Homo sapiens: one gene and its partners. The protein of the gene in region 2 purifies or fractionates together with the protein of the main gene of each other region. This does not show direct contact. Each region holds a gene or a part of one and is shown on either strand. Other genes may lie near its edges.

The links. The genes of interacting proteins can lie anywhere in the genome.
Region 1: the proteins of NT5DC1 (region 2) and OSBPL11 purify together in Homo sapiens (co-immunoprecipitation; one large-scale study listed by IntAct). This does not show direct contact.
Region 3: the proteins of NT5DC1 (region 2) and ACACB purify together in Homo sapiens (affinity purification with mass spectrometry; one large-scale study listed by BioGRID and IntAct). This does not show direct contact.

What each region holds. Positions count from the first base shown.
Region 1 is NC_000003.12:125,581,998-125,585,497, forward strand, and holds part of OSBPL11 (oxysterol-binding protein-related protein 11), read right to left. Parts: intron 982-3,500; coding exon 913-981; intron 1-912. UniProt on the Homo sapiens protein: Plays a role in regulating ADIPOQ and FABP4 levels in differentiating adipocytes and is also involved in regulation of adipocyte triglyceride storage. Weakly binds 25-hydroxycholesterol. Interacts with OSBPL9 to function as lipid transfer proteins.
Region 2 is NC_000006.12:116,103,853-116,107,352, reverse strand, and holds part of NT5DC1 (5'-nucleotidase domain-containing protein 1), read right to left. Parts: intron 1,110-3,500; coding exon 1,018-1,109; intron 1-1,017.
Region 3 is NC_000012.12:109,123,087-109,126,586, reverse strand, and holds part of ACACB (acetyl-CoA carboxylase 2), read right to left. Parts: intron 2,442-3,500; exon of another isoform or gene 1-2,441. UniProt on the Homo sapiens protein: Mitochondrial enzyme that catalyzes the carboxylation of acetyl-CoA to malonyl-CoA and plays a central role in fatty acid metabolism.

The sequences.
Region 1 (3,500 bases), on a different chromosome or scaffold from region 2:
TATAAAATAAAAAGTAACTCTAAAAAGTTTTAAACTTTTAAAATTCATGTTGGGTGGCCAGGTGTGGTGGCTCACGCCTGTGATCCCTGCACTTTGGGAGGCCAAGACGGGTAGATCACCTGAAGTCAGGAATTCGAGACCAGCCTGACCAACATGGTGAAACCCCGTCTCTATTAAAAATACAAAAATTAGCTGGGTATGGTGGCGCATGCCTGTAATTCCAGCTACTCAGGAGGCTGAGACAGAAGAATCACTTGAACCCCGGAGGCAGAGGTTACAGTGAGCCGAGATCATGCCATTGCACTCCAGCTGGGTGACAGAGCGAGACTCCGTCTCAAAAAAAAAAAAAAAATTCATGTTTGGGTTTGGAGAAGTCTGGCATTCTACGTTAGCCTGTTCTATAATAGAACTTGGTAGACAATTTGATCCCGTTTAATATGCCTGCCCCACAACTACAATTCTATAAAGTATTTGAGATAGCTGGTTTTCCTGCTTCCTGACAGCTTGTGTGACCCTTGGCTGGTTACTTAACCTCTTCAAGATCCCAGAGAAGCTGTGAATCTGGCATAAGATGGGAACCTAACACAAATGTGTTTGCTGTCTCCAAACCCCTATTTCTCTTCCCCTAAGAACCTAACTTCTGCAAGTATACAATGCCCAAGCCAGGTAACAAGTGATTCTAATCCTCATTTAATAGTAACATCTGAGGCATTTAGAGGCTGCTACTTGGACAGATGTCAACTTTTCCCACCCTCTAAGAAGAAGTCACCAAACTTTTAGAAGCTGTGGGAAATCCTTCTCTAAAAGGTTTCCCAGCCATGTCTGTCTAAAGTAATATCAAAATATAAAATTATTGGGCCCTATTCCTGCTCTCTTAGGAGAGACTGATGTGACACAAATAATCACACTTACCTGTACTGCCACCCAGTGACAAGGTTGGTATACTTCATTAAATAGCCATACACATTTTCCATGTGATCACTATTTCAAAATGAAAAAGCCAAAGTTAGTAAAAATTAGAAGAAATCCCAGGAGGATAATGGTACAATTTTCAAAATAGCTGCAGATACATATATGCTCTATAAATGCCTCAAATTTTATTGAGAAGTAAAATGTATAGGTCAACAGAGGCATTTAATCTCCCAAATTTCATATCTATAGGACTTCATCAATTTCCTCAAAACAAGTACAATACCTCATAAATTATATATTATTATAAATATTCCAAATGTAAAATCATTATACAAATATAAAATTACATAAACATAAAACAAATATACTATAAGTATTATAAGTGGGATGGCCGGGCACAGTGGCTCGAACCTGTAATCCCAGCACTTTGGGAGGCCAAGGCAGGAGGATCACTTGAGGTCAGGAGTTCAAGACCAGCCTGGTCAACATGGCGAAAACCCATCTCTACTAAAAATACAAAAATTCATCGGGCGTGGTGGTGTGTGCCTGTAGTCCCAGCTACTTGGGAGGCTGAGGCAGGAGAATCACTTGAACCCAGGAGGTGGAGGCTGCAATGAGCTGAGATCTCACCACTGCACTCCAGCCTGGGCAACAGAGTGAGACTCCGTCTCCAAAAAAAAAAAAAAAAAAAAAAAAAAGGGCTGAGTGCAGTGGCTCACACATGTAATCCCAACACTTTGGGAGATCAAGATAGGGGGATCACTTGAGCCCAGGAGTTTGAAACCAGACTGGGCAACATAATGAGACACTGTCTCTCTTTATTAAATACGTAAAATAAATAAATAAGAATAATAAATAAAGCCCACAACTAGAGGAAAGAATTCTTCTGTAGAAATACAGCCACTTGGGTTTCTGCTAGAGTTCTTATACTTCCGGCCCAGGTCGCAATCAAGTTGTTTATTTCAGTTATTTTGAGATACATTGCTTAGAAAAGCAGAGAGCTATATTTTTTGTTTGGCTCCCCTATCTTCCCCAGGCTTCAGGCTTAAGCAGCTCTTTGAGGCCATAGAAAACCCAATGCCCCAGACTCTGTCTCAAAAAAATTCCCTAAAGAGCTCCTCCTCTGTTTTAGGTACTTAGTACACAGCTCAGCTTCCCGAAAAACTTATTCTTGGCCGGGCATGGCAGCTCACGCCTGTAATCCCAGCACTTTTGGAGGCCGGGGCAGGTGGATCACCTAAGGTCAGGAGTTCGAGACCAGCCTGGCCAACATGGTGAAACCCCATCTCAACAAAAAATACAAAAAATTAGCCAGGTGTGGTGGCACGTGCCTGTAATCCCAGCTACTTGTGAGGCTGAGGCAGGAGAATCGCTTGAACCCAGGAGGCAGAGGTTACAGTGAGCCGAGACTGCACCACTGCACTCCAACCCGGGTGGCAGAGTGAGACTCCATCATAAACAAAAACAAAAATAAAAAAACAGAAAAACTTACTCTTTCTCCATTCTGTCCAGTTGCTCCATAATCTGAATATTTGCTTACATTCTGCATCAATCCATAAGAGGTTTGAGGTAGTATACAACCTAAATATTTTCTCAAAGTGCCAAGATATTTCATAATTCGCCATTTTGGGAACTACTCTTTAATCTAGGTTCTCTACACCAAGCTTTCATTACTACATAAATGTCAAGTCATAGCCATTAGCATGTAATAAAAAATATCACAACTGAGTTACAGTTCAATTCCTCTGGCTTTAAGACTGTATGTATTCTTCAAATGTATGTGAACTATGGGGCAAAACCTTCTTAAAACCTTATATATACTTACCTATACCTGAGAAAAACAAAATTTTTATTTCAAAGCAATAAACAAAATACATCATCTTTATTTAGTCACTACTCTCATATTACTGAAGGTACTCCCCATTTTGGTCATATCTAATTATCTATATCACTCATTTAACAGCTCAAGTGACCCTCCTACCTCAGCATCTGAGTAGCTGCAACTACAGGAACGTACAACCATGCCCAGTTAATTTTTAATTATTTTTGTGGGGATGGGGGGGTCTCACTATGTTGCCCAGGCTGCTCTCAAACTCCTGGGCTCAAGCGATCTTTCCACTTTGGCTTCCTAAAGTGTTGGGATTACAGGCATGAGCCACAAATTTTTTAAAGTGTACAATTTCAGTAACATCAATCGCTAAAAAGATCCCACGTGTATCTCTTTTTTTTATTTTTAATTGCGACAGAGTCTCGCTCTTTTGCCTAGGCTGGAGTGCAGTGGTGTGATCTCAGCTCACTGCAACCTTCGCCTCTGGGGCTCATGCGATTTTTCTGCCTCTGCCTGCCAAGTAGCTGGGACTACAGGCACCTGCTACCATGCCCACCTAATTTTTGTATTTTTAGTAGAGATGGAGTTTCGTAAAGATGGGTTGGCCAGGCTGGTCTCAAACTCCTAGCCTCAAGTGATCAGCCTGCCTCAGCCTCCCAAAGTGCTGGGATTATAGGTATGAGCCACTGTACCTGGCTCTAAGTGTATCTTCATATTTCACATCATAGTAATGTTCTGTTTAATTTTCTAATGTTATTAA
Region 2 (3,500 bases):
TTGTTCAGGGTAAAACTTCCAGAGTCAGTAATTTCATATAGTAACATGTTACTGTTTCTTCCTTTTACAAAAATGTTACATCAAAAAAGACTAACAAAATATCAAAAGAATGCATACTAGATCAACATAATGTAGGTATTTTTCATGTGGTTTAGTATTGTTATTGATTCTCACTCTGTAGCCCAGGCTGGAATGCAGTGGCATGATCAGCGGCTCACAGCAGCCTGGACCTCCTGGGTTCAGGCAATCCTCCCACCTTAGTCTCTCCAGTAGCTGGAAATACAAGCACGTGCCACCTCACCTGGCTAATTATTTTTTATTTTTTGCAGAGTTGGGGTTTCGTCATGTTGCCCAGGCTGGTCTCCAACTCCTAGACTCAAGCAATCTGCCCACCTCAGCCTCCCAAAGTGCTGGGATTACAGAATTGCCACCACGCCTGCCTGGCCTGATTTTAAACTGAACAATTTAAAGTGGCTTAGGATATTTGTTTGTTTTGTTATCTAAATGAGGAAGACAAACGAAGCTTTGGGAAGCTGAGAGTCCTAACCCAGGAAGGGAATTCCCAGTAAGAGTCTTAGGAATGTCGAACTAAATGACAGAAAAGCAATTGTCCTAATTCAGACTTACTCAAAATGTGATGATTCCTCCTTTTCTCTTATAGTTCTTAAAAGATAGTAAACCAAACCTTTTTCTTAAAGATGCAAATTTTAGAAACAGTTCTTACTAACCTCTGAAACTATTATGACAAACTTAAACTATATGAAAATATCCAAATTAGTCACATAAACTCTTAGCTTATTTTCACATTTAATTAGGCAAGTCTAAACTTGTTTAAAGTAGAAAACACTTTAATTCATTAAATACAAAACTTTTAATATAGAAGGCATTTGTCCTTTGACTCAATCTCACATTTCACATTCCATCTTCTTAGAAGAGAAAGCATTACAGTTTTATCAGTAACAATTAGAACCACAGGAAATGTACAGACTTAAAAAAAAAAAAAAAAAAAGAACTTACCAGAAATCCCAATCCTCTGGGGTCACATTGAGCAATTCCTTATCGTACCCTTTCTCCTTAACTAGGAACTGGGCAAAGCTATTATAAATGAGCTGCAAATAAGGGGAAGAAAAACAGATTAAATATAACACCCACTATTCATTCTTAATGTCACAGACCTAAAACCCTAATGGAATTGCTGATGGGGGCAGGTAGGAGGAAGGAAATATCTGTAATTGTGAAGTTCTGCAGTATAATTCTCCTTCACAAGCAATTTATCATCCCCTGCATGCCCCAGGTAGCTGTCCCATTCAAAATTATACCGTCAGCATACAATTATACAACCAAAGACAATTATTAACCCTACTCCTGAATTCTAATGGGTTGGAGATCATAATTTAAGACTTGACAAAGCTTTTTAAACTTATTTAATACATCACTAAGATGATAAAGATGATGACCACTCTATCCATCCATCCTTGGTCCATTCTGGCCAGAAAGGCCCCATGTCAGGGAAATACATATGGGGACCAGGAAGGTGATCTAAACAAGTCATGATGCCTCTATCAGATACAGGTAATCACTCTTGTTTCTCCACACACACATACACAAAAACCATTAAAAAAAAAAAATCTAAAGACAAAGGACAAAGAAAGCCTCTGGAAGCAAGTACAATAATTACAATAATAAATACTCTGTTGATTGCTGACAGATCTTATTTCTCAACAACAAAAAATGCTAGGTTTTTGAGTAAAATATCTGGTTTTTAAGTGCTGGCTAACTTTAAAAGAACTGTACATACCAAACAAAAAGTGCACAAAAGGTAGATGGTCCAACCTTATTCTACCTCGAAGTGTTCTTTGGCCAGTGTTGGGTAAACTTGAGCCTGAGCAGAACAGTTGTCTGAGTCAACCTGCACAGTGTCCAAAAGGACACACTGAACAATCTGACCCTTCTTCTACAGATATTAACCCACAACAGGTTTCGATAACATGTCATACTTTTAGGGAGAAGAGGGAGGCAGAGGAGCAGGGGAAATCTCTCCTGGGTAGTGAGGTTTACACTGATACTTAGATGCAGCAGTTCGCTGGGTGAATGCAGAGGGAATGGGGGGCAACTCAGGTTCAGAAACTGAGGGGCCTGCACACAGCTGGAGTAGGGGTGTCGGGGTCTGAGTGTCAGGATATGAGCATGGAGAAAGCAAAGGCTCCTTGTGAAATGTCAAATCGAGTTGCTCCCTGTCATAAAGCTAATTAAAATCACTACACATGTACTTCCATCCAGTGCAATGTGACCTTATCCAGGTCAACTGTTAATTGAACCACATTATGTTAACACTATATATCAACAGTTCTTAACCCTGGTGGTGATTCAGAACCATAGGTGACACTTCTTAAAACTACCCAGAGCTTCCAAGCATACAGGGTAGAGAGGGCCCTCTCTGAAGCACAGAGAACACTGAAAATCACTGACCTGCATGTTTTACAGATTTTTATTCAATCATTAAAAGGAAAAAAGCAACAAAAAATACACTGAGTCACCCTGTGGTACAAAGTACTATGGACAATAAAAAGTCCACATCACGATCCTGCTTATAAGAAACCAGTGCTGCAGGGCTAACAGATGTAAAATGCTTAGAGCAGAGCCTGGCACACCAGCAAATCCAATTTAAGTATTTGCTATTATTATGTTGTATGCTGCTAAAAACAAAACAAAACAAAACAAAAAAACAGAAAACAAAAACACTGCCCTGACAGGTAGCGCTTGCCCATCTCCACGGTGTAAATATTCCCACCATGGCCTGTTTCAAGTCACCAACAGCAGTTTACCTGCTTGCACAATTCCTGAATAGTTAACAATTGGCTTTCACAAGCCCCTAAGAGCCAGCTATTGTACACCTTAGATTTGCCTCTCATTGAGGCACTTTTGAGTTTCTCCAGTTATTCAAGTGATTAGTCTAAGATATGGGCATGTAATTCTAAAACACTTGAATTCTCCTGGAAGAAAGGAGCCCTTTCCATCAGAGACGCCAACAGGGACAGCAACAGCTGTGTTCCTTACCTTGTGGAGGAGATTTTTCTGTAACAGGAGAGAAGGGGGCCAATGGACAAGGAAAAGAAGCAGAGAAAAGCAGTGTGAAGAAAAGCAGGGGCATCTGTACTCTGAAACCCCTGGTCTAGGCAGAAGGCTTCTTGCAGTTTGTCCTTAGAGTACGCTGAGTCTCTCTAGAAGCCTTCATGGCACAGGGCTCTCCATGACATTCCTCCCCCAGCCTTAGCTATCACCACCTCACAGTCTCTCAGGAGTAATAATAATACACGTTCTACTGCAGTTGCCAATTGGTACCCTGTGGTCCATATGCAGCCTACAAATTATGTTTGGTTCCCACTTAAGGTTGCCAGATAAAATTTAAAAATGCCTAGGTAAATGTGACTTTCAAATAAAAAACAAATAATTTTTTTTTAGTATAAGCATGCAATATTTGGGACCCCACTCTCCCACTC
Region 3 (3,500 bases), on a different chromosome or scaffold from region 2:
TTAGCCTCCCAAATAGCTGGGACTACAGGTGCACACCACGACATCTAGCTAATCTTTTTTATATTTTGTAGAGATAGGGTCTTTCTGTGTTGCCCAGGCTGGTCTTGAACTCCTGTCCTCAAGCAATCTTCCCACCTCTTCCTCCCAAAGTTCTGGGATTACAGGCATAAGCCACCATGCCTGGTTCAGATCAAATTCTTGATGTGGTGAATCTGCCATCCCAAGCAAAACTGGCCTGAATGGTTCCAGATCGGCCCCTGCCTTGAAGGAAGGTAAGAGGAGCCGTTTTTCCACCTCCAATGGAAAACATGTTCCGCAGTCTAAAGGCCTATCAGTCTGATCTGTCTGGCTAGCCTCTCACTTGAATTATCCCTGCAGAAATTGCTGAAGTCCACTGTTCAGCTCTCCTAAGTTCTGGTCCTTGCCATCTTCACAGGTGGAATCCTATCCTTCTTCGCTTCTCCCCCTGCTGTGCTGTGAATTTGCCTTCTTCAGCCATTCACTCATTCATCAGCAGGTATTTCCTGAGCACCTGCCAGGTGTGGTACACGCTGCTGGAGACATGGAGCAAACAGGCAGGAATGGCCCAGCCCTGCCCTCGTGGGTTTATGATCTCACTGGGAAGCAAATAAAATCACAAACCTGAGGGCACAACCAGGAGAATCGCCATGAACTCGTGATGGATCAGGTTTTGCACCAAAATGTAAGTCATTTTTGAGTGTGAAACCAAGAACCCTCTGGGCGACACAGTGCATTGGTTAGAGCACGAGATCTGGATTCAGGTTCTATTTCTGCTGTTCATTTCCTGTGTGACCTTGAACAAGTTTCCTCACCTCTCTGAGCTTGGGTTTTCTCATGTATACAATGATAAGGAAGTCTTCCTCATACAGTTTTGGAGTTTAAGTAAACTAATACAGATCAAGTCATTGATGAAAGAGTGTGCTACCATTTATGGTGCTCTCCATCATGTACCAAGCATTGCGCTAAGTGATTTACCTAAGATCAAGTTCAAGCCACTGTTATATCTCACTTGGGCCACTGCGAAAGTCTCTTGACCTGTCTCTCTGGCCTGGTCTTGTCCCTCCAGTTCATCATGCACAGAGAAGCCAAGGCGATCTTGTAAAAATTCCACAGACATCGTTAGTGTCCAGATTATAATGTCTCTAAGAACATTTCCCACTGAAAGGAACCAGGACTCCTTGGAGAAATGTCTGATTCTAGGGCTGGGGCAGAAATGTACATGATGAGCTGAGATATCTTCTTGCCTGAAAACAAGGACCCTCCAGGGGCATGGGCTACCAAAGAGAGGCTGCAAACGGATGATGACTGCAGTGGATTGAAACACATCAAAATATCTTTAAAAACCATAAGGTCGTAACACCCCTCAAAACAAAAACAACTCGTTGATACTTTTCATGGCTGCTAGGGCTACTCATTACTCTGAAAATAGACTTAGCCCCGCCCACACACAAAAAAAGGACATAATCAACCATGTACTCTGCCTTTCAGGGACTGTATTTCAGGGTAAGCAAATGCTTGAGGAAAGTCGTGTGGTAGAGAACAATGAGAGTTGGGCCGGGCACAGTGGCTCATGCCTGTAATGCCAGCTCTTTGGAAGGCCAAGGCGGGAGTATCGTTTGAGCTCAGGTTTGAGACCAGCCTGGGCAATGTAGTGAAACCTCATCTCTATCAAAAATACATAAAATTAGCCAGGCATGGTGGCGAGCGCCTGTGGTCCCAGCTACTCAAGAGGCTGAGGCAGGAGGATCGCTTGAACCTGACAAGTTGAGGTTGCAGTGAGCCAAGATTGTGCCACTGCACTCTAGCCTGGATGACAGAGAGAGACCCTGTCTCAAAACAAACAAACAAAACCAGAAACAACAACAACAACAACAAAAAACAACAAGAGCTAATAAGCACAGAAAGATTGACGGAAGTAGAAAATCACTATAGTAACGAAACAATAATCTGGGCTTTGCTCATCAGCAGGCAGTAAAGTCATTCGGCAAGAGGGTGATAGGGAACTTTACGACGGAGGTCAGACTGATACCCTAAACTCACTAATGAACAAAAATCACTAAAAGTGGGGTAACTGAACTTTATGTTCTTGACGTGATGCAAGAGAAAACAGAAAAACACCTTCAAAGTATTCCTGCTAAGGATCTGCACCTGAATTGATTCAAGCCTCTTGACCTAGTACTTATTTATAGGTATAGAAGAACATGTTAGATGACACTTGGAAGATGCAATCAGCCAAATCCAGAATATGGAAAATTCTACGGGACAAATGACCCAGTTTCAATAAGTAACTGGCATTTAATAAAGGGAGTTGCTGATTATTACAGATGAGGAGACTTAAGAGAAACCCTGTGGGTCCTGATTTGAATAAAACCATTCAAAGACATCTTTGAGCCACCTGGAGGACAGTCAGCATGAACTAGGTACTAGATTAAGGAATTATCATTCATTCTGTTAGATAGATATAATTATGGCAATGGTTTAAAAAAAAAACTTGTGTCTTTTAGAAATGTGTGCTAAAGTATTACGGGCAAAACAGTGTGACATCTAGCTGTGAGAATTGCTTGAAAATAGTCTGGGGGCCAGATGCAGTGGCTCACATCTATAATCCCAGCACTTTGGGAGGCCAAGGCAGGAGGATCGCTTGAGCCCAGGAGTTCAAGACCAGCCCGAGCAACATGGCAAACTCTGTTACCTAAAAAATAAAAATTAAAAAAAAAAAATTAGCCAGGCGTGGTGGTGTGTCCCTGTAGTCCCAGCTACTCTGGAGGCTGAGATGGGAGCCCAGGGTAGTAGAGGCTGCAAGTGAGCCGAGATTGTGCCACTGCACTCCAGCCTGGGCGACAGAGTGAGACCCTGTCTCTTTTCTTTTTTTTGAGACAGGGTCTCACTCTGTCACCCAGGCTGGAGTGTAGTGGCACAATCTTGGCTCAATGCAACCTCTGCCTCCCAGGTTCAAAAGATTCTCCTGCCTCAGCCTCCTGAGTAGTTGGGATTACAGGTGCATGCCACCAGGCCTGGCTAATTTTTGTATTTTTTGTAGAGATGGGCGTTTTTCCATGTTGGCCAGGCTGGTCTTAAACTCCTGGCCTCAAGTGATCTGCCCGCCTCGGCCTCCCAAAGTGCTGGAATTACAGATGTGAGCCACCACGCTCGGCCTAAGACCCTGTCTCTTAAAACAAACAAATAAACAAACAAACAAAAAAAACTCTGGAGCTCTAATTAATGACATGCATGTTGAAGTATTCAAGGATAAAGACACTGATATCTGCAATTTACAGGTGACAAATACAGAAAAATGGTAATGGCAGAATCTAATCAGGGGTATATGGGCACCCACTGTAAAATTCTTTCAACTTGTATGTTTAAAAATTTTTTTTTTTTTTTTGAGATGGAGTCTCGCTCTGTCGCCCAGGCTGGAGTGCAGTGGTGCGATCTCGGCTCACTGCAAGCTCCGCCTCCTGGGTTCATGCCATTCTCCT